2 separate regions of the Homo sapiens genome follow, and region 1 is linked to region 2. The links come from fine-mapping of genetic effects on gene expression. A gene starts in region 2. The other region holds a variant in brackets. All regions are shown on one strand. Distances are from middle to middle.

Region 1 (5,201 bases), 46 kb before region 2:
GGGATAGAAGAAGTGGTTATGCGACACCATGAGCAAACAATCTGACAAATTCAGAATGTGGGGCTTCAAAAAGACAGCAGGCCTAGGGCCTCAAAAACAATGTCATTTAAAAACTCAAAGTGAGCTGAGGGAAGACCTTTCAGCATTCAAAGAGGTTTTAAAAACATAGTTAGAAAATGCAATGTGTGCACCGTGACTGGATGCTGATTCCAAAACCAGACACATAAGTTACCTGGGAGACAATTGGGGGGATTTGAATACAGATTAGATAGCAGACATCGCTGGGAAATGACTTCTCGTCTTGGCTGTGATACTGGGCCAATGTGTAGGACAATGCCCTAACTCTTAGGAGATGCAGGCTGAAGCTTTCAGGGATCAAGTTTCATGATGTTTGCAATGTACTTTTAAATTAGGACAGAGAAAACATATACATACACAGAGAGAGAAAAAGAATGTGGCAAAATGTTAATAATTTTAGATCTAGATGCTGGGGAGTGGGCATTCATAATTAAATGTTTGGTAAAACATTGTTGTATTTGCTTTTCCCACTAACAAGCCCATGGGCACAGCTCTGTGCTGGGACCACCAACCTCTGCAGGTCAGCGCAGCAGCTCTCCTCTGCTGGGAACAGATGGCTTCCTTAGCTGGGCCCAGAAGCACTGACTGCTCATCAGGGGGGCTCAGAAAAGGCCCATTTTTAAACTTCAGACTCATCCTCCAAGCAGCAGGATGCTCCACCACAGAAGGCTCTGGAACTCTGAATGACTGAGGCAGCTGCAGGTGACACTCGCACCTGCACCCACCCTGGGGCAAAGGCTCATGGAGGGGACCACAGAATAGACGATGGAGCCACCTGAACAATTTCAGTTATTTCTCTCTCCTTTTTTTGGCCAAATGCTTAGAGTGAATTAGTGGACATTGAAGACTGGCCTCGCTGGCCCACTCATCTGTGGCTTCTCTTCTCGGGAGGGGGTGTCCTTGTACCCATTAGCTAACAGCCCCCCAGGCAGCTTATCTGCCTCTCCTTCTACCCCCCATACCTGCAAGTCCCGGCAGTGTCTGGACCTAGTGGGTCTTCAAGAAAGGTCTGTTAGTGGGAGGAGAAGTGGCAGCAGTGACCTAGGCAGACAGACTTGGAACATGTGGCAGGTCCAGTCTCCAGGCTTGCAGAAGGGTCCAGGCAAAAATCCAGAAGATCTCTGCTGTCACAGGATTTCCAACCGCCTGCTCCTTCCCATAGCCAGAGGCAGAGAGAAGTGGAGCTCCTGCCCTAGGCCAGCCCACCTCTCCTGCCTTCCATGCTCTGCGAGAGAGGCCTCCAGGCCTAGAGGGTAGATTTCCGAACCTGGGAGCTGTAAGATCCTCACCCATCCCGCAGCCCAGTCCCCTCACTGACGGATGGGACTCTGGAAGTCACTGCCCCTCTCTATAAGCCCCTGGCTCCATGGCGTGGGCATGTCTTCATGAGCACACAAGCAGACATGCCACCCTGTCCTCAGACCCTTTGCTGCTCATCCTGCTGGCCCAACGATGCCCAAGTTCCCAGGCTTGCAGGCCCCATTGAGAGGCATGATGGGGACACTGCTGTGTACACAGTGAAACCACCTGCAGCTGGTCCCACTGAGTGTCCAACTTTCTTCATCCCAGCAGAGAACTGGAGAAAAGGGAATCAGCTCAGAACAGACCCAGGCCCCCACAGGCTGGGGAAGGACCCCTCGAGGGAGAACACGACAGGGATGCAAACGCAGACCTCGGAATGAGAAGGCTCAAAGGCACCCTGGCTGGGAAGGAGTGGTTTGTCCCCATATCCTGGAATGACCATGCTGTGACGGAGGAAGGGACAGGAACCTGGCACAGAGTAGGGTCCCAAGGATGGGCTCAGAGGCAGTGTGGCATTGGAAGAGGAGCACGATGGGACTTGGAACCGGGAGCCTCGGGTTCAACGCTCAGCCCTGCTCCCAGCTGGCTCCATGACGTCGGCCAAGCAGGCCACCTCCCCTTTCTGGACCTGTTTCATACCCGTCAAAGGACCTTCCAGCCCCAAGATGCTAGAGTCTTCTGAACAAGACAAGCCTCTCCAGAAAGTATTTCCTGGGGTTCAGAGGGAAGCAGAATTTGGCAGTTGGAGGGGGCCAGGGAGAGGCACCCCAGCCTCAGTCACTTCACATTGTTAAATGGGGTGGGGTAGGAGCAGACCCCAACCAGAAATCAGCCCAGAGATCCCACTGTCTACAAGGGCCTGGAGACAGTTCTGTGGGCCTTGGTGGGCATCCCAGCTCTCAGGGCAGCTCCCAGCCTAGCACCATGTGAGGGAGAGTGGGTGGGGCAGCTTTTGACCCCAGCTCTCCTAGCCCAGCCCTGGCTGTTTCCTTTGGCCAAAATCCCCTCAGGGTCACTGGACTTCACGCAGCCCGATGTCCTGGAGAGAGCTGGTCTTCCCTGCGCATCTCACCACCTCTGTTCACCTGGGGTAGCCCCAGAGCAGC[C/T]ACGGCACTGGGGAGGGCCCCTTCCTAAGGTCTGCTCAGCCCCAGGCCACTGAGGACACAGCCTCCCTCCCTGCCACCTCATCTCTAGCTCTAAGACAGGGTGACCCCTGAGACTGGGGCTTACCACCATTTTGTAGGACTGAATTAAAAACGAACCCAACCAAAAAAAATAGAATATATATATATACACATTATATATATATATATATATATATAACACAGTGCGACCCCAGCACCCAGGGTATAAACTCTGGCACCAAGAAAAAAAAAAACAAAATATTAAAATATTTTAGCTTCTTAGTATTTGGGAGGTTAAGGGGGTCTCTGAGAGCCCTCGGCCACAGGTGGCTAAGCAAAGCCGTGGCTGGCAGTCTCACCAGCTCGCCCATGTCTGCCTGGGCCTGAGGCTGGGAGGGTGTGGGGACCGTGTCTGTACATGGGAACATGTTACTGGCAGACCCCTGGCCTGCCTCAGTCTTTTACCACAGGAAACACCACACATCATATCCCAGGGGGAAGAAAGGGGTGCAGGTGGGGCCCGGAGAACTGGGCCCGATGGCAAGGCAGTGCCCCAAGGCCCTGCGGGAAGCCTTGAGGATGGAGTGGATACTGTAGGAACCAGAAATTCTTCCCCAGAACGGGAGGGTGAGATGTGAAGGTAGGAACCAGATGTGGAGGCTGGGAGTCCTCTTGAGGGGGCCACCCTCCCATCCAGCCTAGGACTGACTCCGGGGACCCAGCTGGCCCCTTGGAAGAGCCTGGCTCGAAACAGGGAAATGTCCAGTCTGTCTCCCCCGGCCAGGCTCTCCTCCCCTACAGCCTGGAGGACAGGGACATATGGCAGCGAATACTGAGGGGCGCCCTGCGGAAGCAGGGAGTGATGGGTGACGAGAGGGGACAGTCGGCGGAACACAGTGAGGGACAGAAAAGAGTCTCGTGGACTCCCTCCTACCAGGAAGCGGCCTCCCCAGGAGCAGCTGGGAACGGAATGGACCTCTGCTGGCGAGGGAGGTCCCTTAGGCCGCAGACCCAGCGGTGGGTGCTCCGAGGTGCTTGCAGATCCGCCTGGGTGCTCCCCCAGCCCCACCAGACCTCCACAGAGTATTGCTCATAAGTGCGCAGCTGCCCTGGTCCAGCTTCCCACTCTGCAGGTCTGGCTCAGCGTGTGGTGGGATGTCCCAGCTTTCACAAACGTTCAGTCTGGCTGTGGTGGCCACGGCTACCTGGTGTTCTGGAGGTCCTCTCGTAGCCAAGTGGGAAGTGTCTGGCCCATCTTATACAGCAGCTTGGAGAGCTCGATGTTGTGGTCCCGGTAATAGTCCTTCAGGAAGGCTCGGGACTGTAACGGGAAGGAAAGCTCAGACCTTGTGTACTGACTTAAGAGTGACCTCCTCTAAAAATCGCCATGCTCGGCCGGGCACGGTGGCTCATGCCTGTAATCCCAGCACTTTGGGAGGCCGAGGCATGTGGATCACCTGAGGTCAGGAGTTCAAGACCAGCCTGGCCAACATGGGAAAACCCTACTAAAAATACAAAAATTAGCGGGGTGAGGTGGTGGGCGCCAGTAATCCCAGCTACTCGGGAGTCTGAGGCAAGAGAATCTTTTGAACCCGGAAAGCGGAGGTTGCAGTGAGCCAAGATCACGCGATTGCACTCCAGCCTGGGTGACAAAAGCGAAACTCCGTCTCAAAAGAAAACAAAAAAACAAAAAACCCACCATGCTGCTGGCACCACCCCCCATACACCTCTTATTTATCCACAATCTCCTTCTAAATGGTAGCCTCCAATAGTGAACTCCCAGTTGGCAGGAGCATCAAAATATAGCTCACTAAGTCAAAATTCTTCTGATAGGGAGAGGAGAGAGAATTAATAATCAAAACCCAAGGCGGGCAGGGCCAGGGCCAGGCACGGTGGTTCACACCTATAATACCAGCACTATGGCAGGCTGAGGCGGGAAGATCGATTGAGCCCAGGGGGTCGAGGCTACTGTGAGCCATGATCATGCCACTGCACTCCAGCCTAGGCAACAGAACGAGACCCTGTCTCAAAAACAAAACAAAACAAAACAAAACAAAAACAGAAGCAAGTAGGAAAAGGAGGAAGTAACAAGACCCCCAGTCTGTGACCCTTTTTCTATATATTTTTAAAATTTCTTTTTTCCCCCTATGGTTTTACACATGCTGTTCTTACCTACCCTCCCATTCCATATGTCCAAATCCTACAAAATGGATCTCATCCTTCTAGGCGCAACTCCAGAGACCCCCATCCCTCCTTTAAGGAGCCTTTTTTACCCCTCTCAGGTTCAAGTGACATCCCCTTGTTCTGAATTCCCATAGCACTTGTGTGCCCTCTCTGACTGCGCGCAGCACTCTCTGCCTGTATTCTACTTAGTGGTGTTGGGACTCATACCCCTCCAAGACCAGGAGTTCCTTGAAGGCAGAGAACATGTCTGGCTCATCCTCAAAACCCCACAGCACTCAGCCCTTAGTAGAAGGTAACCAACACTTGTTTGACGAAATCAGGTCTGACCCACCATGTCCCAGCCCCCATTTTCCTCCTCTTACAAATACTGTCCAAGAAATGCTAAGGCCATGAACATGCTGAGTGCATGGTAAAGGAAAGAGAATCCCCCTCAACTCCATACAGGGACCCCTTACCCTTATGCAGGTGCTACAGGTAGTGTGTCCACCACTTACATCCAAGTCCATCTCGGGA
Region 2 (5,215 bases):
GCCAGATGCCCTGCACATCCCTTTCTCCATTCCTTTTCAATAGTTTTCTGTCTGTGTTTGTTTTCATCCATTTTATATGTGTTTTAGTATCACAAGCAGCCTCTAGTGATCTTTCTTGGAAGTAGCTCACAGATCATCCGTCAATCAACAAGGAAACAAAGCATTAAGCACTACTGGTTCACTCCCTGGTTCTCAACTTGTGAATCTGTTCTGGGTTCCCTGGCAGGGAAGGCCCAACAGAAAACCTCAGGAACTTAGACCTCACTTGTTGAGAATGTGTCCTTCTTCCAACAGGGCCTGAGTTGCGAGTTTACCTTTGTACCAGCTCTGAAAAAAAGGGCTTACCGAGCAAACATACCAGACAGCCTGGGGGTGGGGCTGTGTGGGGAACACGGCAGGTCACCTGCCACCCTCCCGTCCCAAGGACGGGACAGTCCTGACAGTCCCACTGAGGCTCTTCACGCACACCAAGGCTGTCAGGTCCATCACACAGAATGTTATGCAGTGGCCACAAATCTTCCCAAAATGGGGCTCTCTGCCCACCCTATCCCCAAATCTGCCTATGACAGAGTCAAATCCATCCAGAACTATTTTTTCCTTAGGCTCAGATCACAGACACTCAAAAGGAACAAAGCAGCATATCCCAACACATATCATAACCTCCCTTACTGGCGGCCAACGTTAAGCTCCTGCGAACATGTGGGGCTGTGCCAGGAGCCTTACCTGCTCCATCACGCTCAATCCTAACACCCTGAAAGAGGTGTCACTGCTATGAGCACTTTACAGACAAGGAAATGGAGGCTCAGAGAGGGTAAGCAACCGCTCGAAGTCACACAGCTGGGCAGAGGTGGAGCTAGGATGCCCCTCCCAGCCCACCCCACAGCCCCTGTTCGTTACCCTTCTGCAGTCCTACTTTCCACACCACTCCCAAGCCAGGTCTGCAGCCCAGGAGAGAGGCTTCCTGGAGGTGACCAGGCCCAGGGCTGCTGACCCAGCTTCTCTAGCTGAGCTTCAGCCTCCTGGGAAAGCCTGCACTGCAGAGAGGTGCACCATGGAACCCAGCAAGGCAGGACTTCAGCCAGAGGGTCCTCACGCCCCCATCAGACACCCCAATATAAGAAAGGGGGATGGCGGCTCGGGGCAGTGGCCCCTGCCTGTAATCCCAGCACTTTGGGAGGCTGAGGCGGGTAGATCACAAGGTCCTGAGATCGAGACCATCCTGGCTAACACGGTGAAACCCCATCTCTACTAACAATACAAAATTAGCCAGGTGTGTGGCACATGCCTGTAATCCCAGCAACTCCAGAGGCTGAGGCAGGAGAATCGCTTGAACCTGGGAGGCGGAGATTACAGTGAGCCGAGATGGCGCCATTGCACTCTAGCCTGAGCGAAACTCCATCTCAAAAAAAATAAAGAAAGGGGGGCCACCTCCTGCCCCAGGCAGAGGCCTCATGCTAAGGAAGAGGCAGGAGCGAGGGTCAGAAGCAGGAGATCTCAGCTAGCAGGGCACCGCAAAGGACAATGGTGAGCACCTCGCCTCACGGCCTGGCATGTGCCAGGCGCTCTACCAAGCACTTCCCAACCCTCACTTCATTTATTTGTCATTTATGCCCAGTGAAGTAAAAACAATTTTATCACACCCTGAGCTTCTCCCCTATCTGCCTCCCCTGCAGAGGAGCTGGGAAATGTGGGTCACCACTAGCCCCCACCCTCCCGCATGCCCGACTCCAGGCCTCAGATACACCCTGAGAGATTCCAAGGCACAGGCAGACTCAGGGGCCTCCATCTCAAGGATGCAGAAGCCAAAATCCATGCGGGCCTGGAAACCACAACAGCCTCCCAGTCCTTCCCTCCCAGTCATCCCCTTCCTCTCATCAGGGGATGAGAGGTCATTGTCCCCTGAATGAGCCAAGCTTCCCCAGCTTGTAAGGTCAGGCAGAATGCTGGCAGGAAGACAGAGGCAGGGGGTGCCACAGCCTCCATTGCCGCCTGTGAGTCTCTGGGCAAGTCCCTTCCCTTCTCTGAGCCTCAGTTTCTGCAACTGCAGTGAGGGGTATGGACTAGAGGAGAAGTCTGTGACCTTCTGGGGGTTATAGAACCCTTTGAGAATCTAATGATGGCTATTAGCAGATTCTCTCCCCAGACACACAAATTCAGAGTGGTTGTGACTGGCCCCCATCAAAAGCCAAGTTAAGAACATGGAAATTCTCTAGGGGCCCCTCTGGCTTTGACAAGCCATGGCTCTCACAGTCTAGACAGGACCAAAGCCACAAACACAACATCTGAGAGCCCTGGGATCTCACCATTTCAGCTTCCCCCGTGGCCCTGAAATAAATCTTTAAACTCTTGGACCTGCTGGCTTCAGGTGGATTTGTGGACATGCCTAGCTGTCTGGAGAAGCCACAGGAGAAACTGAGCCCTTCCTTCCCATCCCTCAGCCTCCTCCTCCTTCTCCTCCATCAGGAATCTGCCAGGTCAGCCTAGACCTCTCCCTGGGGCAGTTCCGGGAGCTGCTTCTGATCTGGAATGAAGGCAGGACCCAGTGCCAGGCTCAAGTGCCAGCCTGTACCCCCAGATCCCTCCTGGGGACACACACACACACACACACACACACACACTCAGATGGACCTGGAAGGACTGGACAGGGCAGGGGGCCAGGGACAGTGGTCAGAGTGGACAGGAGCCAGCGAGACAATGACCAGACCCAGACCCACCGGAGCTCCAGGCAGTGGCGTGAGGTTCCTCTTCACTTCGCCACGCCCTCTCGAATGTCCTCTCCTTAACACGGCTGCACCTAATCCCAGGGCCAGGAAAAATGGCATTACTGTTGGCCCAGTCCCCTCCCCAGGAGAAAGGGAAGGCAGAAGCAAGGGAGGGAGGTGGCCCTAGAGCACCCTGCGCCACCAACCACGTTCCTAGAAACCTCCACGCCCCTTCATGCCACCTCCCTTGTCAAGGCCTCCAGCCCCTACCTCCTTAACCTCAGAAAGAGGATGTCCTCCTCCGATTCTGCCCCGTGCCCAGGGAACCACTGGCACCTCGCCTGCCTCACCCAAGCCCTGCCTGGAGGAGCCTTCCACGGGAAAGGAAAAAGCATGTCCCTGACCCTCATGCTAGTGGGTCTTCTGACCCTCTCAAGAGAGGTAGCAGCCAACAGCAGGAGGAGCACTCACTGGCAATAAGGATAACTGGGTCCTGGTTCCAGCCCTGGCCCTTCCCCCTCCAGACCTCAGTTTCCCCACCTGTCCTGAGAAGAAGAGGAAGGACTGGTATGCCCAGCTGGAGGGAAAAGTGTCTATGATGCTGGCTTTTGGCCCCTGGCCCCACCCAGCTCAGCTGCCAGGCCCTTCCCTGTGCCCCACCCTGCAGAGAAGGAAGAAAGGTGACCGGCAAAGGTGTGGAGGGTGTAAGAATCCATGCTGGAGCCTCAAAGTGCTAGAGCTGAAAAGGGTCTTACAAAGACGAGACCCAGAGAAGAGAAGCAACTTGGCCACGGTCACACAGAACACTGGAAAAGGGCCAGGCTGGCCAGGGCTTGCTTCTTGACAGCAAATGCTTAAAAGCACCCAGCTGAAAAGGTATTTGCCTTCTTAGAGGATGCCAAGGAGAGCACAAGGCAACCTGACAACAGTAGAACTGCAGGCTCTGAGAGCTGCAGTTAAAAAAAAAAAAAAGGTATGTTTATACGTGGGGCTTAAGGATGGAGGTTGGGCTGGCTTTCCAGGCTCCTCATGTCACACCACGTGGGTGGCCAAGGGTCCTGCCAGCCACAGGGAAATCCTAGGAGCCCCTTCCAGGGATTAGCAGCTTTGGCCACCTCTCAAGAAGTCACCTAAGGCCCAGCAGGCAGGCCCAGCAGTGGTGACAGAAAGAATGGCTCAGATGGACACTCCAAGACTAGCCCACTCTGGAAGATGCCAGAGCCTTGGAGAGACTGAAAATCCCCCAAGCCCCGTGGCCAGTGAGGACGGAAGCCAGGTGGGCTAGGGATAACACAGAGGAAGGGAAAAGCTTTGAGCCATCTGGAGCCACAGAAGCCCCCTAATCTCCTAGAGGCCTGGTGGGTACAACACAGGGCCTGCTGAGACCAAGGAGGCTTCACCGAGGGCCCACATGAAAGCAGCCAGTCCCTGTAGACTTGCTGGGGCTTGTCATCACGACAAAAGCTGGCCACCAACACGCCTTGGGGTGTTAAGGGACTCAAAGTACTTACATGGAGGCGCAGCTGGCAGGGGGAGGGGGCAGAAGGTGGGGAGAGGTGGGGGCAAGTGGGCCCGGCTTTCTCTAGGACACAGACAACAGCTAGAGAACAGAAACGTGGAGCAAAAAGCACTGGGTGACCTACTTCACAGAGGCTCCTTTTAAAGAGGAATAGGAGGCCTCAGCGAGACTCTAAAAAGTACCTCGCAGGGGTCCAGAACAGTTCATGGGGCCAGGAGACCAGGGTTCCAGTCCTAGATCAGGAACTCACCCAGGACTAGGCTCAGGTGAGGCCCGCGAGGAGCCTTTTAGAAGGTGCTCACTGCCAGGTGCAGTGGCTCACGCCTGTCATCCCAACACTTTGGGAGCTCAAGGCAGGTTGACCCAGGAGTTTGAGACCAGGAGTTCAACACCAGCCTGGGCAACATGGCAAAACCCCTTCTCTACAAAAAAAAATTACAAAAATTAGACAGCGTAGTGGCGTGTGCCTATAGTCAGTTATATGGGAGGGCTGAGGTGCGAGGATCACCTGAGCCCAGGAGGTTGAGGCTACAGTAAGCCCAGATTGCACCACTGCACTCCAACCTGTGCGACACAGCTAGACCCTCTCTCAAAAACAAAGGTTCTTATTCTCCACAATGTGCAAGCACACAGCGGGCACCTCCTGAGACGCTGCACTTAGATGCCTCACTTGCCTCATCCTAGGCCCGGCCTTCTTACACAACCTGCCTGTGACCTCAGGCAAGTACCACTCCTTTCTCGGCCTCAGTTTGGTCACATAAAACAGAATCATGAAGCCAGGCATGGTGACACGAGCCTGTAGTCCCAGCTATTCAGGAGGCTGAGGTAGGAGGATTGCTGGAAGCCCGGGCATTCAAGGCCGCAGTGAGCTACAACTGCACTATGGCACTGCAGCCTGGGAGATACAGCAAGACCCCATCTCTAAAAAAAATAAAATTTTAAAAAACGAGTTAATTTAAAAAATTGAATCATGCCATATGATTCCATAGACCCT

Evidence for each region. PIP is the estimated chance that this variant, and not a neighbour inherited with it, causes the effect. A credible set is the group of variants that fine-mapping cannot tell apart.
Region 1: its variant is the best candidate, but not a certain one, in a credible set for the expression of NDST1 in visceral fat (GTEx, PIP 0.55).

Annotation. Positions count from the first base shown.
Region 1 is chr5:150,551,837-150,557,037 of GRCh38, reverse strand. NDST1 (N-deacetylase and N-sulfotransferase 1) reads right to left here. Exons shown (of 15, transcript NM_001543.5): 14 at 5,183-5,201; 15 at 1-3,825. The coding sequence ends at 3,706. Among named protein-coding and RNA genes, the nearest start is that of NDST1, 46 kb to the right of the region's middle. The variant C/T (reference allele first, on the strand shown) is at 2,487.
Region 2 is chr5:150,505,726-150,510,940 of GRCh38, reverse strand. It overlaps NDST1 (N-deacetylase and N-sulfotransferase 1), which reads right to left and starts at 2,810. Exons shown (of 15, transcript NM_001543.5): 1 at 2,715-2,810. RefSeq lists an enhancer at 253-826.